Linked DNA regions of Homo sapiens. The protein of the gene in region 1 interacts with the protein of each later gene in a biochemical or structural test. Each region holds a gene or a part of one and is shown in the gene's direction. Other genes may lie near its edges.

The links.
Region 2: the proteins of DLST (region 1) and OGDH form a complex in vitro, tested with the Homo sapiens proteins (one study listed by BioGRID).
Region 3: the proteins of DLST (region 1) and SIAH2 form a complex in vitro, tested with the Homo sapiens proteins (2 studies listed by BioGRID, with this or other methods).

Annotation. Positions count from the first base shown.
Region 1 is NC_000014.9:74,891,799-74,895,548, forward strand, and holds part of DLST (dihydrolipoyllysine-residue succinyltransferase component of 2-oxoglutarate dehydrogenase complex, mitochondrial isoform 1 precursor), read left to right. Parts: exon of another isoform or gene 1-260; intron 261-1,035; coding exon 1,036-1,188; intron 1,189-1,549; coding exon 1,550-1,626; intron 1,627-2,513; coding exon 2,514-2,611; intron 2,612-3,750. UniProt on the Homo sapiens protein: Dihydrolipoamide succinyltransferase (E2) component of the 2-oxoglutarate dehydrogenase complex. The 2-oxoglutarate dehydrogenase complex catalyzes the overall conversion of 2-oxoglutarate to succinyl-CoA and CO(2).
Region 2 is NC_000007.14:44,700,553-44,704,302, forward strand, and holds part of OGDH (2-oxoglutarate dehydrogenase complex component E1 isoform 1 precursor), read left to right. Parts: intron 1-990; coding exon 991-1,063; intron 1,064-3,750. UniProt on the Homo sapiens protein: 2-oxoglutarate dehydrogenase (E1o) component of the 2-oxoglutarate dehydrogenase complex (OGDHC). Participates in the first step, rate limiting for the overall conversion of 2-oxoglutarate to succinyl-CoA and CO(2) catalyzed by the whole OGDHC.
Region 3 is NC_000003.12:150,756,534-150,760,283, reverse strand, and holds part of SIAH2 (E3 ubiquitin-protein ligase SIAH2), read left to right. Parts: intron 1-3,750. UniProt on the Homo sapiens protein: E3 ubiquitin-protein ligase that mediates ubiquitination and subsequent proteasomal degradation of target proteins.

The DNA of each region.
Region 1 (3,750 bases):
TCTTTTTCACTGTTACACTAATAAGGCAGATAGACCGCATGATTGAGGTTAGTCAGGCAAGACCAGAAGCTCAGAGTAGAAAACATGTATGGTAGAAGGCTGGGAAATAAGGTAGTCCTCCTGTTGCAGAAGTTTGTCTTAGCACTAACCCTGGATATAATGTCCAGATGGGTGAAAAACAGAAACAAACATTTCATTTAAAGTTGTGAGATTATTACTTGGCCACTTCAGTGATTTATGAGTCATCCTGGATGAAGTGCTTTCTTAAGCCTAAGTCAACCCTCGATGACTATTTTATTTTTTGAGATGGAGTTTCACTCTGTCGCCAGGCTGGAGTGCAGTGGCCTGATCTTGATTCACTACAACCTCCGCCTCCGGAGTTCAAGTGATTCTCCTGCCTCAGCCTGCCGAGTAGCTGGGACTATGGGCACATGCCACCACGCCCAGCTAATTTTTGTATTTTTGGTAGGGACGGGCTTTCACCATGTTGGCCAGGATGGTTTTGATCTGTTGACCTTGTGATCCGCCTGCCTTGGCCTCCCAAGGGGAGTAATCCCTTGGCCTGTAATCCTGGGATTACAGGCGTGAGCAACTGCACCCAGCCTATTTTTTAATAGTATTCTTGCATATATAATGTTAAAATAGAGGATGAAGAGTATCAGTAATTAGAAATATGTTTATGTATGCATTTCAATATTTTAAATTGCCTAGGTGTTTTTTTTTTTCCTTGGAAGTTTACATTTTCTTGGGCTTGATAGGTGCTTTGAAAGTACTTGCTGAATTTATTCAGTGGAAACCTGTGAAATTGGGAAGGGAGCTAAGTTGAGCCAGTTATCTGATGGACATTTAGGGACCCTGAGGACTAGAGAATAGTGCCTTATGTCATTGTGTGTGTGTCTCATAGTGCTTTGCATATTGCTGATACCCAGTAGACATTCGTTACTTGATTGGAGCTAGAGTTTTTGCCACTAAATTTTGCTTGGTTGCTTCTCATTTCAGACAGTGCCAGTGGCATATACTTTTCTTGTTTTTCAGCTGCTCCTGCTAAGGCCAAGCCGGCTGAAGCTCCTGCTGCTGCAGCCCCAAAAGCAGAACCTACAGCAGCGGCAGTTCCTCCCCCTGCAGCACCCATACCCACTCAGATGCCACCGGTGCCCTCGCCCTCACAGCCTCCTTCTGGCAAACCTGGTAGGCTTCCAACTCCCACATGTCATGTGGGAGAACATCTCGTCTAATATGTTCCTTCAAAGGGTAAACTCTAGACTGATGATGGTTCTGAACAGGCCAGGTTGGCTGCTTTGTAGAAAGAATTCTAGACTTTGTATCCAAAGGCCTGCTTTGCATCTCAGCTTTCTGTTACTAGCTGTGTGTCTTTAGGCTAGTCACTTAATTTATCTGAACAGATTGTTCATCTGTGAAGTTGGAGTGATACTAATATACCTCAGAATATCTTGAAGATTAAGTAACAGTACATATGAAAGCACTGGCACAAACTCAGCAGATGTTTCTTTCCTTGTCTGATGCAGCTTTATCCTCTTTTCATTTTCAGTGTCTGCAGTAAAACCCACTGTTGCCCCACCACTAGCTGAGCCAGGAGCTGGCAAAGGTCTGCGTTCAGAACATCGGGTAAGCCTCTGAGGACCACTTTCAGGAAAGAGGCAGGGGGCAGTGTTGAGATTAGTGGAGTATGGGTGTGGTGATGCCTACCTTTGAATGCCTGGCAGCTCATTCCCTCAACCTTGATAAAGGGAGTTTAGGATATAACTTCTTCATAGTCACATAACCATCAAATGATAGGACTAGAACCTGAGGTCTTCTGAACACTTGTTCAGTGGTTTTCCTACTATATTATGCTACCAGTGAAAGCCTTGGGTAAGTTAAATATTTGTAGGGGTGGTAGCTTAGTAACTCACCCCCGTCCTCCCACGATGTCACACGCTTCAGAGAGGTGGTTTAGTGAGCTCTATTCCTATACTTCTGGGATACTTAGCTGTAGCTAAGGGATAATACTCAGTAGCAATAGCTGTCAGGTGCAGACATAAAGCCTCAAGGAAGTATGGTCAGGATTGTGGTTCCTCTGCCTGAGAATACTTCCTAAAAATATGATAGCCTCGAAAGTTTGTTGCTCATGAGGTTCTGTTCCACAAATAGCTATTCTTATGCAAATCTTTATCAACAGAAAGTGCCCTTTTTCTTATGATTCTTATGTTGGCTAGACTACACTACACTACATTCTTTTATAAATGGGTTTTGGTTTTTAAATCACTGTTTCTGAGCCTTCATTCTTGGTCAAGCTTTAGGCACATCTGAGTGAGTAGTTTTGGCCTGTGTTTGCATGTTTTTGCTTGGAGGAGAAAGGGCCACCACAGGAAAGGGAAGCCTGGAGCTCGTGTACTTAGATACTGTAGTCCTTGGCCATCTACTCGTGGCAAGCCGTGTTCTTTCTGACTACACGGGGAATGCTTGACCCAGAGAGATCAGATTGTCAATGCTTGTTCCACTCTTACTTTCAGGAGAAAATGAACAGGATGCGGCAGCGCATTGCTCAGCGTCTGAAGGAGGCCCAGAATACATGTGCAATGCTGACAACTTTTAATGAGATTGACATGAGGTAGTGTCTCTAGTCCCTCTTATCCCCTAGGCCCCTTTTTCTTAGAGAACACGAACTTGCCCCACTCCTTATCTAGTGCTGATTCTAAAACTAACTTGTCAGGGAAGAGGTATTTGTTTATTGTTTTTTGTTTGTTTGTTTTTGTTTTTGTTTTTTGAGATGGAGTCTCGCTGTCTCCCAGGCTGGAGTGCAGTGGCATGATCTCGGCTCACTGCAAGCTCCGCCTCCCGGGTTCACGCCATTCTCCTGCCTCAGCCTCCAGAGTAGCTGGGAATACAGGCGCCCCCCACCACGCCTGGCTAATTTTTTGTATTTTTTTAGTGGAGACGGGGTTTCACCGTGTTAGCCAGGATGGTCTCGATCTCCTGACCTCGTGATCTGCCCTTCTCGGCCTCCCAAAGTGCTGGGATTACAGGCGTGAGCCACCGCGCCTGGCCTGTTTATTGTTAACTTTCACAGAGTGAGCCGCTGGCTTCTTCTCTAATTGGCTTTCCTAATACTATGCCTGCCTCCTCCATGACCTTAACCTTAGCCTTGGCTAGGTGTAGTGGCTCACACCTGTAATCCTGGCACTTTGGGAGGCCGAGGCAGGCGGATTGCTTGAGTCCAGGAGTTCAAGACCAGCTGGGTAACAAGGCGAAACCCCACCTCTACAAAAAATACAAAAATTAGCCAGGTGTGGTGGTGCACATCTGTAGCCCCAGCTACTTGGGGGGCTGAGATGGGAGGATTGTTTGACCCCGTCACTTACATATTTTCCTAAGTGATTCAGAATCGAGTGGATGAAAAGGCAAAGATAGGCTGGGCTTGTCTTTCATTTTACCCAGCTCTGACAGTGAAATGGAAAACAAGTTGTGTTTTTAAATAACCTTAGAATGTTAACCAAAGGTACTAATTCACTAGGTATGCCCATTTCTGTAGTGAGCTAATTGTTGACTTACCTGTTTTCTTCAAGATTTCAATGTGTTCAAGTATCAGCACTGTCAGGAAGAGAAATTTGACAAACGTGTTTTGAGTGCGTACTGTATACAGAGTACTGTACTGTGGAATTCAGTGGGGATAGACGCTGGGCACCATGGCTCGTGCCTATAATCCCAGAGCTTTGGGAGGGTGAGGAAGGAGGATCGCTTGAGCTTAGG
Region 2 (3,750 bases), on another chromosome or scaffold:
ACGGATGTTTGAACAGGTGGTCATAGGGGGTGTGCTGAGCTCTGGAAGAGAGGTGAGCCCTGGCAGAGGCCAAGGGAGTGCAGGGTCCCCAGGGAGCGGCTCCTGAGCTGGGTGTTGAAGGGTGAGTAGAAGTTGAGTGGAGGGATACGTTGGAGAAGTGATTCATAAAAAGGAAGGAGGCCGGGCGAGGTGGCTCACGCCTGTAATCCCAGCACTTTGTGAGGCCGAGGCAGGTGGATCATGAGGTCAGGAGATGGAGACCATCCTGGCTAGCACAGTGAAACCCCGTCTCTACCAAAAAAAATACAAAAAAATTAGCCGGGCATGACAGCGGGCACTTGCAGTCCCAGCTACTTAGGAGGCTGAGGCAGGAGAATAGGAGAATAGCGTGAACCCGGGAGGCGGAGCTGGCAGTGAGCCGAGATCGCACCACTGCACTCCAGCCTGGGCAACAGAGCGAGACTCCGTCTCAAAAAACAAAAAAAAGGAAGGAGTGTGGGGGACAGCGAGGGAGTGCCCTGCTGCCCTGGGATACCGCGGGGGTGGGAGTATGGGGTGGAGGCTTGCAGCTCGGAGTGTCCCCAGCAGTCCAAGGGCCCACAGGGCAGGACAGCCCTGGTGCTTCTTGGTGCTGGGCCATGTCACAGCCTTACATGGGCTTTGGGTGCATTTGCTCTGAGACTGCCAAGGAGAGGGTCAGAGCTCTTTCCTAGGTACAGAGAAGCAGGGAAGGGAGTATTGGGAGTCCGAGCAGGCTGGGATGGGCCCTGCCAGGAGTGGATACCCAGCTAGGGGAGGTGAACAGCAGGGAAATTGGTCATCTTTCCTTTTCCCTCCTTCTCTGCCTCTTCTGACCTGAGGCTCCTGTTGAGTGGGAGGGCAGGTGTGTTTCATGGCCTGAAGGTCAAGGCTTGGGTAGCCTTGCTTTTGACCTTCCTTCTGGAATCTTCAGAATCTGATCCTTCACGAGCCTATTGTTCTGTATTTCAGTTAATTATCTTCACCCCCAAATCCCTGTTGCGCCACCCCGAGGCCAGATCCAGCTTTGATGAGATGCTTCCAGGTGGGTGTGAGGGAGATGGGCATTTCCTTGGGGGAAGCTATGTTTGGGGCTTCTTTGCTGCTGCTCTTTTACAGCTCATGGGACTGACATTTGTGATTCTCACTGGCTCTTGCCAGATTTTTGGTTGTAAAGACCCGTGATACATGGCTGGGCACAGTGGCTCACGCCTGTAATCCCAGCACTTTGGGAGGCCGAGGCAGGCAGATCATCTGAGGTCAGGAGTTCGAGGGCAGATCACCTGAGGTCGGGAGTTCGAGACTAGCCTGACCAACATGGAGAAACGCCATCTCCACTAAAAATACAAAATTAGCCAGGCGTAGTGCCACATGTCTGTAATCCCAGCTACTCAGGAGGCTGAGGCAGGAGAATTGCTTGAACCCAGGAGGTGGACGTTGCAGTGAGCTGCTATCACGCCATTGCACTCCAGCCTGGGCAATAAGAGCAAAACTCCGGCACAAAAAAAAAAAAAAAAGTCCCATGATACCAGATGAGGGAGGTCACAGCTTACATTCACGTTGGTCAAATGACATGTCTTAACATGCAGCCCAGGAGCTGTTGCCTCTCACCTGCAAATGCCCCCAAGGACTCCACTAGAGGCAATTAAGTATGTCCAAGATTGAGGGTTAGTGCCGCTGCCTGCGGCCTCCTTCAGCAGGTGAGTGGCAGCTCACCACTGGCTCAGAGGCCCAGCCCCAAAGCAAGCCCTTCAGGACAGAGAAAAAAACACTGGACGGCAGGTCCTGCCAAGTCACATGCCAGCTGCACTTGTGTGAAGGGAGACCCATAACATTGAGATTTCTATAGGGACAGTGGAGTGCAGGATGTTGACACAGCCTTTACCACCCACCAGGGGTCACCAGGCCAGGAAGCCTGCATCCCACCAGTCACCAAACCCCCTTTAGTCTTCAATCAAGGTGAGCCCCTTGTTTTTTGGGGGTTTTTTCCCAATCTTTTTTTATTTTTAATTTTATTTATTTATTTATTTATTTATTTTTGAGACGGAGTCTCGCTCTATCGCTCAGGCTGGAGTGTGGTGGCACAATCTCGACTCACTGCAAGCTCCACCTCCCGGGTTCACGCCATTCTCCCACCTCAGCCTCCCAAGTAGCTGGGACTGCAGGCGCCCGCCACCACGCCTGGCTAATTTTGTTTTTGTATTTTTAGTAGAGACGGGGTTTCACCGTGTTAGCCAGGATGGTGTCAATCTCCTGACCTCATGATCCACCCATCTTGGCCTCCTAAAGTGCTGGGATTACAGGCATGAGCCACCATGCCCAGCCCCCAGTCTTTTTTTATTATGGTAAAATACACAACATAAAATTTACCATTTTGACCATTTTTAAGTATCCAGTTCAGTGTGTTACTGCCTCTATAAATTTGACTACTCTATGGAACTCATAAGTGAAATCATACAGTCTTTGTCCCTTGCGACTGGCTTGTTTCATTTAGTATAATGTCTGCGAGGTCCATCCATGTTGTGTAGCATGTGTCAGAATTTCTTTTTTTTTAAGACTGAATAGCCAGGCATGGTGGCTCATGCCTATAATCCCAGCACTTTGGGAGTTCGAGGCAGGTGGATCACTTGAGGTCACAAGTTTGAGACGAGCCTGGCCAACAGGGTGAAACCCCGTCTCTATTAAAAATACAAAAATTAGCAGGGTGTGGTGGTGCACGCCCTGCTACTCTGGAGGCTAAGGCAGGAGAATTGCTTGAACCCGGGAGGCAGAGGTTGCAGTGAGCTGAGATTGCACCACTGCACTACAGCCTGGGCAACAGAGTAGGACTCCATCTCAAAACAAAACAAAACAAAAAAGACTGAATAGGCTGGGCCCAGTGGCTTACACCTGTAATCTCAGCACTTTGGGAGGCTGAGGCAGGTCGATCACTTGAGGTCACGAATTTGAGACCAGCTTGACCAATATGATGAAACCCCATCTCTACGAAAAATACAAAAATTAGCTGGGCATGGTGGCGCGCACCCGTAATCCCAGCTACTCAGGATGCTGAGGCAGGAGAATTGCTTGAACCTGGGAGGCAGAGGTTGCAGTGAGCCAAGATTGCGCCACTGCATTCCAGCCTGGGTGACAGAGACTCCGTCTCAAAAAAAATAAATAAATAAACTAGCCGGGGGTGGTGGCGCATACCTGTAATCCCAGCTACTCAGGAGGCTGAGGCAGGAGAATCACTTGAACATGGGAGGCAGAGGTTGTGGTGAGCCAAGATCACGCCGTTGCACTCCAGCCTGGACAACAAGAGCGAAACTCCGTCTCAAAAAAAAAAAAAGACTGAATAATACTCCATTATATGTGTATGCCACATTTTGCTCATCCATTCATCTGTCGATGGACACTTGGGTTGCTTCCATGTTTCAGCTATTATGATTAGAGGAGCTGCTATGAACATTGGTGTACAAATATTTCTTTGAGTCCCTGCTTTCAGTTCTTTTGAATATGTACTCAGAAGTGGAATTGCTGGACCATATGGTAATTCTATTTTTAGTTTTTTGAGGAACTGCCAAACTTTCCACAGTGGCTGCATTTTACATCCCACCAACAGTATATGAGGATCCCACCATCTCTACATCCTCATCAGCACCTACTATTTTCTGGTTTTTTCATAGTAGCCATCTTAATGGGTGTGAGATGATATTTCATTGTGGCTTTGATTTATATTTCTGTAATGATTAA
Region 3 (3,750 bases), on another chromosome or scaffold:
GCTTTTGTGTGTGCATGTGTGTGAGTTGTATAAAGCTGGGGTGTGTGTCCCTCACCTTTGGTTGATCAATAATCCAAACTATTGGCAGGGCAGCTCAGCCAGTTAGTCTGGATAAACCAAACTTGAATGTATACATAGGCCCAGCGACCAACCAAGATGTGTTAGTTGTAGAGGATGAGAAACAACAGAGAGCCGTAAGGCCTGTATCAAACTTAAAACAAGGCAGATCTGTTTACCTAGCCCTTTGGCCTACAGTTTGAGGCTCCTAGAAATTATGGGACTGCCTTTTTACTGTCCCCACCTGCTCTCAGAATCTCTCATGGGCTGGCTCATGTGAAAAAAACCAACGTTGAATAAAGTACCAGAGCCCACATCTCAAGAGCTGCCACTGTTTGCCTGAAAGACCACCTCCCAGGGCCTTGATTTCCTCATCTATACAAATGAGAGATGAATCTGCTTGACTTCTAAGGACCTGTAGCTTCTAGCATTCTATGAAAAGAAGGGAGGCTATCTGGAATGTTATTGGATGCCCTCTATCTGCCAGTTACTTTGCAGGGGTCAGCTTTTACTAGTTTGCCTTTTTTTTTTTTCAGATGAGGAAACTCATGCCTACAGAGTGGTTAAATGTGAAGTGACTTGTCAAATCACACAGCTAGTAAGAGGACCAGTCCAAGCACCTGCATCTCAAAGGCACAGATGTTTTGTCCTACACCTTACTACGTAGGGATTTCGAATCTGAGTGTATACTCAAGATTCTGAATCATAACTCAAGGTTGACACCAGTAACAAAACCGTCTGGTTGGATGAGTTCACCAGATGGGCCTCTTATGGGACCATCCCAAAATGACAACATACATACTCACTATGAAATTCATTGGCAGGAATTTTGTAGGGCATGTAGGGTAGGAAGATGGGAGGGTGGGGGAAACCTACAAACCTAGTATTTTGTGGGGTATCATCACAGCTCTGGACTGCTTCAGTTGGCAAAAAAATGGATGTATTGCCAAATAACTATCCCACTTAGGTTTAGGGTAATTAATTAAAGGCTAGAGTGTTGCCAGCACCTTTGATATGGGGAACCGGATGCATTATTAGCTCAGATCTTTGGGTGTGGTGACTCATGCCTGTAATCCCAGCACTTTGGGAGGCAGAGGTGAGCAGATCACCTGAGGTCAGGAGTTCGAGACCAGCCTGGACAACATAGTGAAACCCTGTCTCTACTAAAAATACAAAAATTAGGGCCAGGCGCAGTGGCTCACGTCTGTAATCCCAGCACTTTGGGAGGCTGAGGTGGGTGGATCACCTGAGGTCAGGAGTTTGAGACCAGCCTGACCAACATGGAGAAACCCCGTTTCTACTAAAAATACAAAAAAGTTAGCTGGGCATGGTGGCACATGCCTGTAATATCAGCTACTCAGGAGACTGAGGCAGGAGAATTGCTTGAACCCGGGAGGCAGAGGTTGCAGTGAGCCAAGATCACGTCATTGCATTCCAGCCTGGGCAACAAGAGTGAAACTCAGTCTCATTAAAAAAAAAAAAAAAAAAAATAGCCAGGTGTGGTGGCAGGCACCTGTAATCCCAGCTACTCAGGAGGCTGCGGCAGGAGAATCGCTTGAACCCAGGAGGTGGAGGTTGCAGTGAGCTGAGATTGTGCCACTGCACTCCAGCCTGGGTGACAGAGCAAGACTCTGTGTCAAAAAAAAAAAAAAAAAAATGGAATGTCTAATAGTGTATGGCTTTCTTCCGCTTGGGGTATTTTTTAATCCATTCTGTGGCTTGTTCCATGCCTGAGAACTTTTGACATCCTGTGCCCAGACTTAAACTCACCCCTTCAGTGTGTGGGTTTAGGGGGAGAAGTGAAGGTTGACACATTCATATCAACAACATAGTCTACTTTACCATCCAACGATGTATTTTGATATCAGCCAAGTATTTCTCTCTACAACTGTGAGCAATGCTAATCCACTCCAGCCTTCTTACACTGTAATGATACCTTTTCTTTGTCCTCTCTGAAAGTTTCTAGTAGCATATCTCCAAATAATTATTGAATTTGAAAGCCTCAGCTGGACAAGTCTTCTCTGTGGTTGAATTGTGACAATGTCTGTGTTCCTTAAAAAAATAAAAAATAACATAAAACCAAGTAAGGTTAGACAAAACAGTTGAAAGTTTAAAATCCCTTGGCCTCATCTAGTTCAGTGGAGACAAACTTTCTAAATGGGAGGAGGGCCATGTAATGAGAGGAGAGGAGAGGAGAGAAGTATTTGATGCACTCATGGCCTCAGGGTCAGGGAGACCTGGAGGAGCAGTGGAGATGGTGGAGAGCCAGAGAACAGGTGCCACCTCCCAAGAGGCAGCCTTTACTCACCTCTGGCTGATTGGTGGGGTTGGGGATGTGGGTACAGGCATATCAGACCTTTAGATTTTTTTCAAGAAAAGCCAGAAATCTGGATCTTTTTTTTTTCCTTTAAGAGATGTCATCTCACTATGTTGCCCAGGCTGGTCTTGATACTCCTGAGCTCAAGCAATCCTCCTATCTCGGCCCCCCAAAGTGCTGGGATTACAAGTGTGAGCCACCGTGCCCAGCCTGGATTTTTTTTTTATGTTAAATATCTCGATTTTTTTTCTAGCATTGGCTGACTTCACATGTATAACCACCACTTGCAGACAAAGCGAACCACCACGTCTCCAGGCCAAATTCCAGCTGCCAGCATGCAGCCTCTGATCTGATTCTCTTGTAGAAGCATTCCTTGAGCCTGGAAGTTCTCATTTAACTCTTGCCATACATGAACTTTGGAACTCTGTTAGGCCCTAACTGTTGGTGATTTTGTAGCTTGTTTTCTTTTCATCTTCATTTTGCCAAGAGAATATTATTTTCTGGCCATCAGGAACCCTCAGATGATGGCCTTGTGACTAGATGTTTGACTCTATACAGGTCAGTTTCTTTTTTGCACCTGAGGGTCTTTAAGAGAAGGGATTGGACTAAATGATTATCCCAAGGTTCTTTCTTACCCTAAAATTTTAAAATATAGTAAGCGGTCCCAGTGAAAAGAACGTGAGCCAGGAAACAGAAGACCTGGGTTCTCGTCCTGGCTTTGTGTGACTTTGGTCCAGTCACATACTTCCCTGACCCTGTTTGTTCATCCATTAGAAAGAACGGAGATGACGCCTAGTTAGTGGGTGCTTGGAAATCAGATTAGAAGTGCTGTTGAGGGCTTTTGCTTCACCATATGGAATGGAATATGGGGGGTATTGGGGTGGTTGGAAGGTTGCAATGGGGGATCACCTGGAAGCAGGAAGCACAAGCCGATTAGCCAAAAATACTTTCAAAAATTTCTTCCTAACCCCCAGAATTCTCCTAACACAAAACTATTTACTTTGGAAGTTGTCCCTGAAGTCCTCACTACTGCCTGACATGGGCAAGGTTGGCCCATAAAAGCACAGAGTGAACTGGCAAGGACCAGAGTCCACATACATTAACTCCGGGGCTCAAGATTTTAAAGAACAAAATTGATAATACACCTTTCGTTGTAGTTTACTTTTTGTATAAAGCAGAAGCATTAGAATACTATATGGCAGTACTTAAGCTTAATGGTAATTCCACACATAACTGGCCAAAGATTTTTCACAGGTCACCATGACCTGGAACTAGAGTAAATAGTTATCAGTGAAAGTTGAGCCTTAGTATAACCAGAACAGAGGCTTACCAAAAGTTACAGCAGGTCTGGCCTATAAAATACCAGCCCAAGATTG